Regions from separate parts of the Homo sapiens genome. Here region 1 is linked to region 2. The links come from fine-mapping of genetic effects on gene expression. Tissue or cell type: whole blood. Region 2 holds a variant in brackets; the other region holds the start of a gene. All regions are shown on one strand. Distances are from middle to middle.

The links. PIP is the estimated chance that this variant, and not a neighbour inherited with it, causes the effect.
Region 1: it holds the start of CARS2, and the variant in region 2 is fine-mapped to the expression of CARS2 in whole blood (TOPMed, PIP above 0.99).

What each region holds. Positions count from the first base shown.
Region 1 is chr13:110,701,235-110,709,412 of GRCh38, reverse strand. CARS2 (cysteinyl-tRNA synthetase 2, mitochondrial) reads left to right here and starts at 3,297. Exons shown (of 15, transcript NM_024537.4): 1 at 3,297-3,543; 2 at 3,842-3,892; 3 at 7,858-7,975. The coding sequence starts at 3,320. RefSeq lists enhancers at 2,370-2,489, 2,500-2,879 and a silencer at 2,930-3,489.
Region 2 is chr13:110,676,091-110,684,268 of GRCh38, reverse strand. CARS2 (cysteinyl-tRNA synthetase 2, mitochondrial) reads left to right here. Exons shown (of 15, transcript NM_024537.4): 6 at 1,135-1,218; 7 at 7,166-7,295. Among named protein-coding and RNA genes, the nearest start is that of CARS2, 26 kb to the left of the region's middle. RefSeq lists an enhancer at 7,598-8,178. The variant T/C (reference allele first, on the strand shown) is at 4,483.

The sequences.
Region 1 (8,178 bases), 25 kb before region 2:
TTAAGAAAACAGAATTAGCTGCCGGGCACGGTGGCTCATGCCTGTAATCCCAGCACTTTCAGAGACCGAGGTGGGCGGATCACCTGGGGTCGGGAGTTCAAGACCAGCCTGACTAACATGGAGAAACCCCATCTGTACTAAAAATACAAAATTAGCTGGGCATGGTGGCACATGCCTGTAATCCCAGCTACTCAGGAGACAAGCAGGAGAATTGCTTGAACCCGGGAGACGTGAGAAAGAGGCAGGAGAATCGCTTGAACCCAGGAGATCACGCCATTGCACTCCAGCCTGGGCAACAAGAGTGAAACTCCATCTCAAAAAAAAAAAAAAGAAAAAAGAGAAAAGAGAATTGGCCAGGTGTGGTGGCTTAGGCCGGTATTCCCACCGCTTTGGGAGGCTGAGGTGGCTGGATCACTTGAGGTCAGGAGTTCCAGAGTCCCAGACCAGCCTGGCCAACATGATGAAACCCCATCTCTACTAAAAATACAAAAATTAGCTGAGCGTGGTGGCACGCACCTGTAATCCCAGCTACTCGGGAGGCTGAGGCAGAAGAATCACTTGAATCTGGGAGGTGGAGGTTGCAGTGAGCCGAGATCGTGCCACTGCACTCCAGCCTGGGTGATAGAGTGAGACTCTGTCTCAAAAATAAATACATAAAAATAAAAATAAAAATGCAAAAATTAGCTGGGCACGGTGGTGTGCACTTGTAATCTCAGCTACTGTGGAGGCTGAAGCAGGAGGATTGCTTGAACCAGGAGGCAGAGGCTGCAGTGAACCCAGATCAGGCCACTGCACTCCAGCCTGGGTGACAGAGCAAGACTGCCTCAAAAAAAAAAAAGAAAACATAATAGAATCACTGCCAGTGAGGGGCTAAAAACATTACATGAATTTTCTGAAGACAGAAGATACTATTGTTAATTTAAAAGTTGTGATGTTCTATGAACAATTCAAATATACCGCATGTCCAGATTCATGTGCAGATTTGATCTTCAGTGTTACTAAGCTGCTTTCAGAATCTCTGCTCCAGTTATTTCCTTGAATTCGTGTGTTCTCACAGATTGCAACTGAGCTTTTTGTTAATTTGCTTTATTTACTGGCACATCTAATATCTGAATCAGCTTTATCAGGTATTTTACTACCCAGATTTCTTCCCACCTGCACAATTAATCCCTTTCGTAAGGGATTAATTCATCAACATTCAACAAGCCCTTTTATTTCTTCTAAATTTTTTTTTTCCAGCCACAGCAAAACAAAACAAACAAAACCCAAGTCCTTTTCTGAATTTAGTGCAGGGCACAGTGAGAAGTTCAAAATAATGTACAATTTAAGATACTCAGGGAGATAAATATACACACAGCACTGGAAAGTTACAAAATAACATAAGGCAGGCAAGAAGTGATAATATTCAGGAGAATTTAGAGTAGTTAGGTAACATGAGTGGTTAGCATTGATGTAGGCTATAGGGTCTCCTAATTCTAACATTTTAACCTTATTAAATTAGACAATAGATTACATTAGACTACAGTTAGCTTGAAACAGAATTGCAGAGTTGGACTCCAGGATATTGAGAAACTACTCTAGGTACACACTTGTTTGTCTCTACTTAAACCTTTGCTTTTTAATAAAACACCAAAGCAAACTAAAAACAACAACAAAAAACCAGAGGAACGTCTCCTGTTTTGAGAACTGGAAAAGCAAAGGGGACTTTTTCTTTTTTTTGAGACATCGTATTGCAAGACACCAATAGAGGCACTTTTTTTTTTTTTCAGGCGGAGTCTCCCTCTGTTGCCCAGGCTGCAGTGCAGTGGTGTGACCTCAGCTCACTGTGAGCTCTGCCTCCTGGGTTCAAGCGATTCTCTTGTCTCAGCCTCCCCAGTAGCTGGGACTACAGATGCACGCCACCACGCCCGGCTAATTTGTGTATTTTTAGTAGAGACGGGGTTTCACCATATTGGTCAGGCTGGTCTCGAACTCCTGACCTCAGGTGATCCATCCGCCTCAGCCTCCCAAAGTGCTGGGATTACAGGTGTGAGCCACTGCGCCTGGCCCAATAGAGGCACGTTTGTCAAGCTATTGTGAGTAACTTTCAGAATGTTTTTGTTCTCAAGATACGGGATCATGGTGGGGGAGGCATGCTGTGTATTGGAGTGCAGACATGGTGTGTGTTGGGTTGCACACTGTGTATTGGGGTGCACACTGTATTGGGGTGTAGATGTGTGGGGGCGCACACTCTATTGAGGTGCACATTGCATTGGAATGCAGACAGTGTTTGCTGGGATGCACATGTGCTGTGTTGGGGTGCACACTGTACTGGGGTGCAGACATGGTGTGTGTTAGAGTGCACAGTGTATTAGGGGTGCACACTGTATTGGGGTGTACACTGTACTGGGGTGCAGACATGGTGTGTGCTGGGGTGCACACTGTATTGGAGTGCACACTGTATTGGGATGCTGATGTGGTGTGTGCTAGGGTGCATACTGTGTATTGGGGTGCAGACTGTATGCTGGGTTGCACACTGTGTATCGGGGTGCACTGTGTTGGGATGCTGATGGTGTGCTGCAGTGCACACTATTGGGGTGCAGATGTGTGTGCTGGGGTGCACACTGTATTGGGGTGCACACTGTATTGGGATGCTGATGTGTGTGCTGGGGTGCATACTGTGTATTGGGGTGCACACTTCTTGGGGTGCAGACTGTGTGTTGGGTTGCACATTGTGTATCGGGGTGCACTGTGTTGGGATGCTAACGGTGTGCTGCAGTGCACACTGTATTGGGGCGCAGATGTGTGTTTGGGGTGCACACTGTATTGGGGTGCACACTGTATTGGGGTGCTGACGTGTGTTCTGGGGTGGACACTGTGTATTAGCGTGCTGACGTGGGCTGTGCTGGGATGCACACGTGCTTCGCTAACAGGCCAGGGCCCGGCAACAGAAGCTTGCACTGTAAACGCTCCTCCCGCGCGGCGGACACAGCTCCAGGCTGGTACCGCGCGCACACGGACGCCTCGCAGGACCTGGGCTAATAAGGAGAGGAGATCGGCACGGTACCGCCTCTTCCCACGGCCTCCCGGCGCGGCACCGCCCTCCTCCCTCCACCCCGGGCCTTCCCCGCCCCAACCTCTTCGGGCCCTGGTTCTCCACCCTTGCCGCGGGCGACTCGAGCCAGGCCAAAGGGAGGCGCTACCTGAGGACTGCTTCCGGGAGTGGGCGTGGCCCCAAGGGCGTGGGCGGGGCGGGGCGGGGCCGTGCTGCTCTTGAGCGACCGGCAGCGTACCCGGCGTGGCTCCCGTCTCCGCCCAGTCGTAGGCGCTGGCCGCTGACATGTTGAGGACTACGCGCGGCCCAGGCCTGGGCCCCCCGCTGCTCCAGGCCGCGCTGGGCCTTGGGCGGGCTGGGTGGCACTGGCCTGCGGGCCGGGCGGCGAGCGGGGGGCGCGGGCGGGCCTGGCTGCAGCCCACGGGCCGGGAGACGGGTGTGCAGGTGTACAACAGCCTCACCGGGAGGAAGGAACCCCTAATCGTGGCGCACGCCGAAGCCGCCTCCTGGTGGGCCGCGCGGGACTGGGGCACGGGCGGGGGCCGATCGTGGCGGAGACTTCCCACGGCTGAACGGGATCTGGGCTCGGGGAGGGCGTTTAGGAAGCTGCATGGAGGGCGCCGTTCTAGAAGCTGGGGGTGCGCGGTGCTTTTGCAGGTTTGGGTGTGAATTGAGCAAGTATGAAAACCCCGGCTATTCATCCCCCAGAAGTGATTACTTTAAAAATTATATGATCATTATAACTCAGAATCGAATGTCCTTTCTTGCAAATATGTTCCACACGATGGATTTTAACTTTGTTTCCAGGTATAGCTGTGGACCAACTGTATATGATCATGCGCACCTTGGCCATGCTTGGTGAGTTTCCTGGATTTGAATTTTCATACTTCAAAGGACCATTTATTTTTGAAAGCCTTTTGCTGATTTCTTTTATCTCTTAAGTGGCAACTTAGGGATGCAGAATAATTCCTACATTCCAGGCATTGTGGGAAATGTTACAACCTCATTTGGTTCTTATAGGGATTCTGAGCACTTACACCCGTTTTACAGGTGAGGAAACTCAGGGAGACAATGGAGCACTGAAAAATGACCCGTTTTGGAACTAGATGTTTTTTGCTGGGTTTAGTGACATCAAGAGGCCTTTGCGGGGTCCCGGGGTCCTGCTGATCAGTCATTCCTGGGCCCCACCACTTCTTAGCTTCACAGCACTGAGCAGGTCACTTTATTGCTTTGAGTCCTGGTTTCTTCATCTTTGAGATGGGAATGATAACTTGGATCTTATAACAATTTTAGTAAATAATGCCCATAAAATGCTGCTTAACACTGTACCTCACATGTGAGATGTCACGGGGCTCAATAGTGATTGAGTAACTTTCCTAAGATGACACATTGAAGAGGTATTGGAACTGGGGTGAGGCTTGGTTTCTCTGACTGCGAAGTGGTTGCTCTCTTGACCTCTTTAACTGTAAGATGTACTGCCTCCTACATTTGCCAAAATTACCACTTTTCCTAATATTTTGTACATTTCCAAAATATAATGTACAAAAATGACATATTATAGATTTTTTAAAACTTAGTATTGTTCAGTCCTAGACTAAAAGTAAAAAGTTACATTTACTCTGTATACTTTTTTTTTTTCTTGAGACGGAGTCGCTCTGTCGCCCAGGCTGGAGTGCAGTGGTGCAATCTCGGCTCACTGCAACCTCTGCCTCCCAGGTCCAGTTGCCGCCTCCTGGCAGCAATTCTCCTGCCTCAGCCTCCGGAGTAGCTGGGATTACAGGCATGTACCACCACGCCCGGCTAATTTTTGTATTTTTAGTAGAGACGGAGTTTCACCATGTCAGCCAGGCTGGTCTCGAACTCCTGACCTCAAATGATCCACCTGCCTTGGCCTCCCAAAGTGTTGGGATTACAGGCATGAACCACCATGCCCGGCATACTCTGTATACTTTAAATATACATTTTTCCCCTTTACTTTGGGCTAACATACTTTTAATTATCAAAAGCATATTTCGACATCTTTCTTGAATTATAAAATATGTTGGGGAAATATTAAAAACAAAACCCCCACCCTGGAAAACCTTTCCACAAAGGTAGAAGAGAAAGAAAACAGTTCTGTTACTGAATAAGCCTTAAACCAGAAGGGGATGAGCTAAAATAACTGCAAAGACAGAAAGAAATCTCATCCTTCTATGGAGCTTTGGGGATACAGCCTGTCTCAGTCTATGAGTCTGCTGTAACAAAATATCCTAAAATGGATGACTTATAAACAACAGAAATTTCTTTCTTTCTGGGGCTAGGAAGTCCAAGATGAAGGCACCAGCAAATTTGGTGTCTGTTGAGGGTCTGCCTGCTGTGTCCTCACATGGTAGAAGGTAGAGGGAATTCTCTGAGGTCTCTTCTATGAGGGCATTAACCCCAGTCATGAGCTCTCTGCCTCCATGACTTTGTCACTCCCAGAGGCTCCACCTCCTAAAACCGTCACCTTGGGAGTTAGGGTTTCAACCATGAATTTGGAGGGAAGACAAACATTCAGACCATAGCATAACCCATTGCTTCAGGTGAGTTACAGTGTGGAGTCAGATGACAAGGTAGGCCCATCTCCTCCCAGGACACTGGGAAACGGGGCGTTATTTTCCTTGATTACATTTCAGAGGTGGGTCCCAGGTTTTGAAATTTTCTTGAGTTGTAAAACTGCCAAGAGGTTTATTTAGCCATTTAAAAGATTGACATGCATTTGAAGAGGACTGAGGAAGAAATCCTAAAAGTTGTTGGGGAGAGAATCTCTTCTCATTTCCAACTAGGAGAGTCAAGTCTTGCAGTTTAAATTTGTATAATATTTACCTTTATGACTACAGAAAAGAATACACATCTTAAGTGCGCAGCTGAATGCATGTTATAAGCTGTGTCCACACAGGGCCTTCCCAGGGGCTGGTGGGAGCTTGGGACTCTCCTGTTGACCACCTTCCTGTCAGCCTGGCCAACCCCTCCAGGCCTTTGCTGGGCTGGCCTGCCCCACCTCCCTCTCCCCATCTCAGCTCTCCTAGCATTGTACTCCTTCAGTGGTTATTTATGCAACCATCTGATGTCGTTAGCATGATGTAATTATTTCAGCTCCAGCAGGACAGGGATGCACACAGTGCCTGCTGCAGAAAGGTAGAATTTGAGCAATGGGTAGCACTCAGTTCACTGGAAAGAGACACCCTGAAAAATAGCCTCCACCATTTCCAGAAGAGGTCAGAGGGATGGAAACCCTGTTTGGGGAAAACAAATAGATCAGTTTGGTGCTAGGGGGGAGGAGCAGGGGAAGGGATGGGGCGTCAGTTGCAGCCAGACTGGGGAGGGTGCTGCGTGGTCTGGCCCAGAGAGTTTGGATTTCATGCCATGGTAGACGGAGTCACACTGGAGCGTTTTGAGGGAAGACTCTTAGCAAATGAATCATTTCAGCGATCACCCAGATGAGCACACTCACCCAGTGGATGGAGAAAATGGGGCAGAAAGAGCCGGGCTGACGGTAGCATGGTTCATGGTGGAGTCACAGAAGCAAGCTGAGGTCTCCTGATGCCATGTTCTTCAGACTTGGCTGCCCGGCACTTGCAAGGCGTGTGTGTGCGTGTTTGTGTATAGAGTGGCCCCTGTGGTCACAGCCTGCCTGCAGCGTCTCAGGGTCTCAAATTGCTCATGACCCTGCATTCCGCCAGCTCTGCCAAGCTGTGGAGCCTCTGCTGTCTCCAAGGGCAGTTCCGGGACTCAGCCTGGGCTCCTCTGGGCCAAGCAAGGGACTTGACTCTTGTTTTCATTTGCTTTAGGTTCCTGTAATTTTTTTCTTGTAAATCTCACATCTTTTAGACTCTTTCCCAACTTGAGGTGAATGAAGGAGCATGGTGATGAGAATGGTAATAATAGCTTGTGTTTTTAGAATTCATGCTGCACAGGCGGTAAGGCTGGACAGCAGTCCTGTTAGGTGGTGGGATTTTGCCAAATTTATAAGCAAGCCGACTGAGCTGTAAGAGGTTAATTATCTTGTTGAGTTTTGGAGATAGTTTTGTCCCTGGAATCAAGATTTGGTCTCAGCTGTGTTTGGAGAGGGAGGGGGTGTGTGGGAGGTTAAAGTGATACAATAACATGGCTAGGATTCCCCCACACCACCCTAAGAGAAAACAATTTTACGAACTGAAATTTAGGCCACATGGATAGCAGAGGTGAGTGTGACATTAGATAACCTTGAGTTTTAAGGTAACTTTTATGGGAAAACAGATTCTTGAGATGCTAAGTAGATTTTAAACCCTTTTAGTTTTACAAGTCTGAATTACCCCAGTGTAGTATATAAATAAGCTGGCATTTTTAAATATTCTACACTAGTGTGTGCATTCTTAGGAGTAATCTTATATGGCTTTAATGGGATCGTACTTGTTTTGATTTGGTATTTGCTTCTGTTTTGTCATAGTGAAAAATTAGAATTACTCTAGAACATGAACAAGAATGGTGAAAACACGATCTTAACTGAGAGATTGTATTATGAGTGAATTTTTATACAATTAAATAGACTTCAACTCACTTAAGCAACAACTCCAAAATTAAAAATGCTAATATTGTGTCCTGAAATTGATGCAATACCTTTGTCAGTTTCTCCTGAGAACCCTTGTGGCGCAGGCCCTGGTGCCATCAGTGAGAGGGAGTTTCCTTGTACCTGCTCCGCTGACCTGTCCATTGTGCTACACAGTAGAAGTTATGGAGCAGCATGTTAAAATGTAATGGATTTTTTACAAAGATAACTGATGACTTTGTGTAATAAAGACATCCTGACACTTTTTTTCTTTCAGCTCATATGTTAGATTTGATATCATTCGAAGGATCCTAACCAAGGTTTTTGGATGCAGCATAGTCATGGTGATGGGTATTACAGATGTAGATGATAAAATCATCAAAAGAGCCAATGAGGTAAGTGGAGAAGAGTTACATCTATTGATAATGCCATTGATTAGTGTTCTGAGCCCTTCCTGAAAGTGGTTCTTGGCCGGGCGTGGTAGCTTACGCCTGTAATCCCAGCACTTTGGGAGGCCAAGACAGGTGGATCACTTGAGGTCAGGAGTTTGAGGCCAGCCTGACAAACATGGTGAAACCTTGTCTGTACTAAAAATACA
Region 2 (8,178 bases):
TGTAAAGGCTAAAAGTTGCACCCACGCCTGGGGCCTGAGGACAGCTACATGCTGCTGTGTGGTTGGAGGGTGCTGGATGGTGGCTGCGGATCTGTGGTACTGAGAATGGCCATGGTCACAGCCCGGATGAGCATTGCCTCCTTCCTAGGGAGACACATGGCCTGGAACACACAGCGGCTGCAGCCGGGCAGCCTTGGAGCATAGGTTGGTAGTGCTTTCTTCTTGACAAAGCTCCCACTCTGAGTGCCTCCTCCCCAGCTCTGCTTTCTTAGGCTTTGTGGTGGAAGGGGCAAGGGCAGCCCAGGCTTGCAGGAGGCTCTGGAGAAGGTTCTGACCTCAGACTGCAAAGCGGACCTTGGCACTCAGCCTCACAGACACTTCAATATGCAGATGATTTTTTTGTGTGTTTTTTTTGGTAGAGATGGGGTCTCACTATGTTGCCCAGGCTGGTCTCGAACTCTTCAGCTCAAACAATCCTCCTGCCTCGGACTCCCAAAGTGCTGGGATTGGAGGCGTGAGCCACTGCACCCAGCCAGATGATGTTTTCAATCTGAGTAAAAAGGTAGTTTTAGAAGATGACTGGGCAAAGAAAGAGTGTCTTTGCTAGCTGGTGTGTAACATAAAGTAAAGAAAGAGTGTCTTTGTTAGCTGTTGTGTAACACAAGGCACAAGATCTAAATGAAGGTCAGTGATAACACTTTTCTTTTTTCTGATTAAATAATTGTCTCAGTAGTTTACAGAGAACTTACATTTGTGTTTTCACTTTCACGTCTGTGTACTCATGATATGTCCAAATCATGCATTTATCTTATAGTATTGTTTTTAATTCTGGTTAACAAATATATTAAGCCAGGCATGGTGTCACTCCTATAGCCCCACCTACTGGGAAGGTTGAGGTGGGAAGACTGCCTGAGCCAAGGAGTTCAAGGCTATCGTGAGCTGTGATTGTACCACTGCACTCCAGCCTGAGCAACAGCAAGACCCTGTCTATAAAAATATAAATACTATATATGTATATGGGGCCAAATGCTATGTTCTGTATTTAAATTCTAATTACTTGTTAGATGTTAAGGTTGTCAATATGCTGATATTCAGACTGAGAAGTGATGAATTCATAATTGTCTTTATAAACAGGCAATGTCTACTTCGATCTGAAGTCTAGAGGAGACAAGTATGGCAAATTGGTCGGCGTGGTCCCTGGTCCAGTCGGAGAGCCAGGTGGGTTGGCCGGGCTCAGCCCTGTGGGTCCCTGACCTCTGCCTCGGGTCTCAGCTCTGGGGAGATGAGATCTGGAGCGCAGACCCCTCCACTTGCTCAGACACTGGCCTTACCCAGGTCACAGCTGTGTTTTAAATTTAGTGTGGTTTCTGTGGATGGCTCCAGCTTGTGAGGCATATAGTTCAAACGGCAAGTGGGGCATCGTCCACCCCCGCCCCCAGCGTGCCTGGCTCCATTCCCTGGAGACAGTGCTGGTCACTGTCTCCTTTTTCCTCCCCAGGGTTTTCAGCGCACATGAAAACCTCATACACGTACATCATATTTTCGCGTTCTTCTGTGTTACCGTACATTTAATTCCCATACGTGTCTTACTATGTGTTAAACTTCCAATCTGTTTGAATCTCTTCCTTGCTCTATTCTGTTCCAGGGAGTTATTAGGTCAAAACATTTTTATGGAGAAGAAATAGTAAGCGCAGTATATGGAACTAAATTTAAAATAATTTGAAAAGGATACTGTCTAAGGGAATCAAACAAGAATAACAGGGACAGACCCCAAAGACTGTTCAAGGTATTTCTGGTTTTAGGCACTGTCTTTCTGCGCCATAAACTGTGCCAATGAATCCTAACCATCCATAGCACTGACCCCTCAGGTTCTTTCCTTCCCCCGCCGTGGTGCCCTGTCCCGCTCCCCGCACAGGCCGGAACACAGACGCCCACATCAGCCACGTGTGAGGCGTGGCTACCAGCAGGCCGTGTGGGCTTTGCTTACACATGTGGAGGAGAAGTTTCTGAGAGTTGTACATTCTGGCATCAGGAAGGTTTTTTAAAATTATTTATTTAATAGATTTGCTTTTTAGAGCCATTTTAGCTTCATAGCAAATTTGAGAGTAAGGTACAGAGAATTCCTGTCTACCTGCTACCCTCCACACCGCCCCCCACACTGTCAGCATCCCCCACCATTGACGCATCAGCTTTGCCCAGAGACCAGAGTTGGCATCAGGGTTCACTCTCGGCACTGTGTGCTCTGGGTTTGGGTGAATGTATAGCGACATGTTTCCACCATTCCAGCATCACGCAGGATACTTGCACTGCCCTGAAAAATCCTGTGTGGTCTGTCTGCTCATCCTTCCCTCTTTCCCATCCCTGGAAATCACTGGTCTTTCTACAGTCTCTAGTTTTGCCTTTTCTAGAATGTCATATAGTTGGAGTCATACACTGTGCACCCTTCTCAGAATGGCTTCTCTCACTTAGGAATACACAGTAATTTTCCTCCGTGTCTTTTCATGGCTGAGAGCTCGTTTCTCTTTAACACTGAGTCACGTCCCAGTGTCTGAATTTACAGCAGCTTAAGCACTCACCTACTGAAGGGCATCTTCGCTGCTTCTGAGTTTTGGCAATTATGAATAAAGCTGCTGTAAACATCCACGTGCAGGTTTTCAGCTCATTTGGGCAGATACCAAGGAGCACAATGCTGGGTCCTCTGGGAAGAGGCTTATTTGTGTCAGAAACTGCCCAGCTTCTGCCAGAGTGGCTGCACCATTTTGCATCCCCACCAGTGAGGAATAAGTCCCTGTCGTTCCACATCTTCACAGCAGTGCTTTTTAAAATAAAAAATATTTTCTTATACAAAAGCAACATATTTATATAATTTATAATGGTACAAAATTAGGAAATAGAATTACACAAAACAAAGATAATAAAACCACCATTTTTACATATGGTGAAAAAAAATTTTAATGCCTTAGTGTATGTTATTTCCAAAGCAATGGTGTTGTCTTTTTAATTTTCAATTTAAATTGTTGTAATAACACAACAATAGAAAACACCATTAAAAAATGTCCAACTTGGTTGAGCATGGTGGCTCACACCTGTAATTCCAGCACTTTAGGAGGCCAAGGTTGGAGGATCACTTGAGGCCAGGAGTTCAAGACCAGCCTGGGCAATGTAGTGAGACCCCTTGCTGTCTCTACCAAACAAACAAAAATGCCCAGCTCAGTGAATTTGTGTTCAGTGGAGACCCTGCGGTCACCCCCTAGTGGAAGGAGACAACAATGGCAAGGGAGCGAAGGCACCTGAGTCCTCCGGGTCCCACGCCCTGGCCGATAACCTCCCGGGCCCTGCCTGCCAGCCTCTCTGCCCTGCCCTGGGGGCAACTACTGCCCTAACTCTGACAGCGGCCACCTCCTCATTTTTCTGAATGGGTTTATTGCCCAAACACGTGTCCCTTAACACGACACTTAGCCTTAGCTGTTCTATATTTGTGTCTTGTTTTTAGTCCACATGTTCCTCCCCTGGCTTCTTCCCCTTGCTGCTCATTTGAGGGAGAAACGTCATGTGTCTCACGGTTCCCCCAGTGGGATTTCGCTTGCTCTGAGTTTTGGAGTGTCTGTAACATTTCCCTCTGTCCTGTGTGTTTTTTTGCAAACTGGTAGTTGAATGTAGAGGCTTAATCCAGTTCTAAATTTCTGGAGAAGGCTACTTTGTAGATGGTGTATTCCTCACCAGGAGACACGTAAGGGCTCTGCCTCTGTGTGTCAGCAGCCCTGGCCGCTCTAGGCTTAGATCCTTCACTGCAAAAAGAGGTGGCATGGTGGTGCAACTCCCATTCTGCTTTATTTGCTGGAATACCTTTTTTGTTTGTTTGTTTGTTTGTTTTTTGAGACGGAATCTCACTCTTTTGCCCAGGCTGGAGTGCAGTGGCATGATCTCGGTTCACTGCAACCTCCACCTCCCAGGTTCAAGCAGTTCTCCCTGCCTCAGCCTCCAGAGTAGCTGGGATTACAGGGGCATGCCACCACACCCAGCTAATTTTTGTAGTTTTAGTAGAGATGGGGTTTTGCCGTGTTGGCCAGGCTGGTCTTGAACTCCTGACCTCAGGTGATCCACCCCCCCCCCCCCCCCCCTCGGCCTCCCAAAGTACTGGGGTTATCGGTGTGAGCCACCGTGCCTGGCCCATTTGCTGGAATACTTTTATACAGGCAGACTGTCATCTGGTTACTCAGTGGTACAGTTTGTATAAGAAAGGCAGGACCTTTTCCTTAACTTACCAGTTTTCAGAACAAGGAGTTGGCTTCCATATTTTCCTCTGGCAGTGACCAGTTCATGTTCTTCCGTTGCTGAGAGCTCGTGGGCTTCAGTGCACATGCCGTTTTAACCCATTGCTGCCATCACCTTATTGAGCCTCGGCGTGCCCCCTCTTTTGCTGGTAGCAGCTACTCCCGAGTCCCTTACACTCAGCCCTGTTGTAGTTAATAGTTTTGTGGC[T/C]GTCTATCTGATATGGTAAGATATTCCTGGCTCATCTTAAAATAAGCTGTTTCTCCTGGAAGTCCCATTTTTCTCTTTTCTTTCTTCCCTTTTCTTCCCTTTCCCTCCCTCCCTCCCTCCCTCCCTCCCTCCCTCCGGTCACGCCCGGTGTCCCTCCCTCCCTCTCTCTCTCTCTCTCTCTCTCTCTCTTTCTTTCTTTCTTTCTTTCTTTCTCTCTCTTTCTTTCTTTCTTTCTTTTCTTTTCTTTTGTTTTTTTGAGATAGAATGTCACTCTTGTTGTTCAGGCTGGAGTGCAATGGCGCGATCTCGGCTCACTGTAACCTCCGCCTCCCGAGCTCAAGCGATTCTCCTGCCTCAGCCTCCACAGTAGCTGGGATTACAGGCACCTGCCACCACACCCGGCTGATTTTTGTATTTTTAGTAGAGACGAGGTTTCGTCATATTGGTCAGGCTGGTCTCGAACTCCTGACCTCAGGTGATCCGCCCGCCTCGGCCTCCCAAAGTGCTGGGATTCTAGGTGTGAGCCACCGCGCCCAGCTCCCATTTTACTTTTAATGGGAAATGGTGTTTTGAGAACACAGCATGGGCACCATGGATACTCATTGTTGCCATCTGTCATTGCCGTCTGTCATTGTTTCCTGGCCTCTCCCATAGACTGAGGTAATGAACGCATCTGCTCCGTAGGTCACACTGATACTCAAATTCAGGGCCACGGGGTTTCATTAACCCCTCTGTCTGTTCACATGTGTGGTAAGGACAACGGGCGTGACCGGATGACCAGTGGGCATCCACCTGCTTTAGTCCATCACGGACCAGCCCTGCCCGAGGCTTGACCACGGTTAGAAGGTTCCCATGCACGTGCCTCCTCCCCGCCCCGCGTGTCCATATGTTGGAGTGCCCAGCCTCCGCCTGCGCTGCCTTCTGTAGCCCCGTCCACTCTTCCCCCCTCCCACCGTCTCCAGGTCCGCTTTTTCCCTGTTGTTTTTGAAGCTCATTCCCCAGCAGTTTCTGAAGGAAGAGCCCTTTCTCGGGAACAGTATTCTCTGCATTTGTGCCTGTGGATGACAGTGTGCTGCCTTCTACTTCAAAGTCAGTTTGGCTGGAAATACAGTCCTTGGCCGCATTTTCTGTCCTTAAGTATTTTCCTTCGGCATAAGGTGTTATTGATGCTCTCGTTTGCCATGCACTATGTAGGAATTGTTCTGTTTGCTTGGGTGCCCAGAGGATGTTATTCTTAGTAAAGTGACTAGTAATGAAAACGTAGCCTGTCCAGTCTGACCCAGAAAAAGTATCTGTGTCTGCACTCTTTAAATTCATCAAAGGTGATGGACGCCTGTGTCAGTGCTCCCGGGTGGAAAGGGTGATATTGGGACGTTGTGCACATGGGGTGTGCCTGTCCTGGGCAGATGGGACAGCAGGTTTTGGTGAGCATGCGCCACTGGCAGCCTCACCGCACGGTGATGGGCACCTTGCTCAGAGTCTCGGGTCCATAAGCCGCGTTACCTGACACGATCACGCGCCTTTCACTCTGTGTGATTAGTATCTTTTTGGAAAAAACAACCCTGAAACTCAGTTACTGATAAGCAGAGTATTTCTCGTAAGACAGAATAAGGAAAAATGGGAAAACCCCACCTGGTCCACAGTACATTCCTGAGAAATGAGCCTCTGTGGGTTCCCGGCCGCCCAGCTCTCCCTGTGCGCTGGTGCATCTGAGGTGAAAGCGTTGCCGGTGCTCCTGTCCCTCACGTGGGTGAAACAGGAGTGAACGAGAAGCCAAGGCTCCTTCGAAGAGACACAGCCTGGGGCGTGCTGCCCACTGGCGGCTGGAGGGGCTTCCACCGGGGTGGCCGGCTGGATTTCCCTGGTGGGGGTGACCAGCTGAGTTTCTGTGGTGGGGGGTGACTATCTGGGCTTCTGTGGTGGGGGTGAGGTGGTGGTGACAGCCTGGGCTTCCCTGGTGGGGTGACAGTCTGGGCTTTCATGGTAGGGGTGACTGTCTGCGTGTCCGTGGTGGGGTGATTGTGTTTCCATGGTGGGGGTGACTGTCTGGGTTTCCGTGGCGGGGTGGCTGTCTGGGTTTCCGTGGCGGGGTGGCTGTCTGAGTTTCTGTGGTGTGATTGTCTGGGTCTCCCTGGTGGGGGTGACTGAGTTTCTGTGGTGGGGTGACTGTCTGCGTGTCCGTGGTGGGGTGATTGTGTTTCCATGGTGGGGGTGACTGTCTGGGTTTCCGTGGCGGGGTGGCTGTCTGAGTTTCTGTGGTGTGATTGTCTGGGTCTCCCTGGTGGGGGTGACTGAGTTTCTGTGGTGGGGTGACTGTCTGCGTGTCCGTGGTGGGGTGATTGTGTTTCCATGGTGGGGGTGATTGGGTTTCCGTGGTAAGGGTGACTGTCTGGGTTTCCATGGTGGGGTGATTTTCTGTGTTTCCGTGGTGGGGGTGACTGGGTCCCCGTGGTGGGGGTGACTGTCTGAGTTTCCATGTTGGGGTGATTTTCTGTGTTTCCGTGGTGGGGGTGACTGGGTCTCTGTGGTGGGGGTGACTGTCTGGGTTTCCATGTTGGGGTGATTTTCTGTGTTTCCATGGTGGGGGTGACTGTCTGGGTTTCTGTGGTGGGGGTGAATGTCTGAGCATCCGTGGTGGGGTGACTGAGCTTCTTCCCACTGATGTACCGTTTGTCATCTGCAGCGGACTCTGACAAGCGTCATGCCAGTGACTTCGCCCTGTGGAAGGCGGCCAAACCCCAGGAGGTGTTCTGGGCCTCTCCCTGGGGACCCGGGAGGCCGGGCTGGCACATCGAGTGCTCTGCCATCGCTAGGTAAGGTGCCTGCCGCTTCCTGGGGGTTGGGGCTCAAGTTCCCCTGGTGCCTGCTCAGGGCAGCAGAGGATGTGCATGGGAGCAGGTGCAGCCTGGCACGTGTGCCCATGGGTGATTTTTTGGGAAGAGATTTTTGCCGGAGTGTGACGGGCCATGGAACGGGGTGAACGAAACCCATGACACATCAAGCTTTCCTGACCTCAGCACTTCCTCTGTTTAGTGGAGAGGCTGCTTTTTGGTTCACACTTGCAGCTGCCCTGTTCCCTCACCCTTCTCTGTAGTGGCTGGTGCTTGGGGCCCTGGAGGAGAGTGCTTGCACCTACATCCCTCCTCGCTTCGCACTTCTCTAGCCCCCAAATCCCTCTCCGCCTTCCCGCCAGCTCTTCTAGCTCAGGCAACTCGCATGCCAGGGTGCTCTGTGGCGGAAATCTCCAGCTCCTCCCAGATCTTCCTGGAGTCCCCCAGCCACCCTCATGTGGGTCCTCTGTCACCAAAGCTCCTCTTCCCACTGTCTGCCTGGGACCGCAGCTGCCTGCCGCCCCCACTCAGTCACACGACACTGCTCTCCTGGCCCACTGCGGCATCCCCTACTCTGGAAACACCCTCTCTGTCCTGGTTTCTGCCTCTCAGTAGAGCTTTCTCCGCCTTCTCCCTGGTCCCCTTGGACGCACCTGAGGTGTCCACACCCTGTGGCTCTGCCCACAGCCAGGGGCACCTTGGGTGGGGTGTGTGAAAGACAGCATACCGCCCGTGCCCCGTGCTGCACAGCTGCCCATGGGGCTCGCCACAGTTAGTTTCATGTTCCTGTTTTTTTGTTTTGAGACGGAGGTTCACTCTTCTTGCCCAGGTTGGAGTGCAATGGTGCGATCTCGGCTCACCGCAA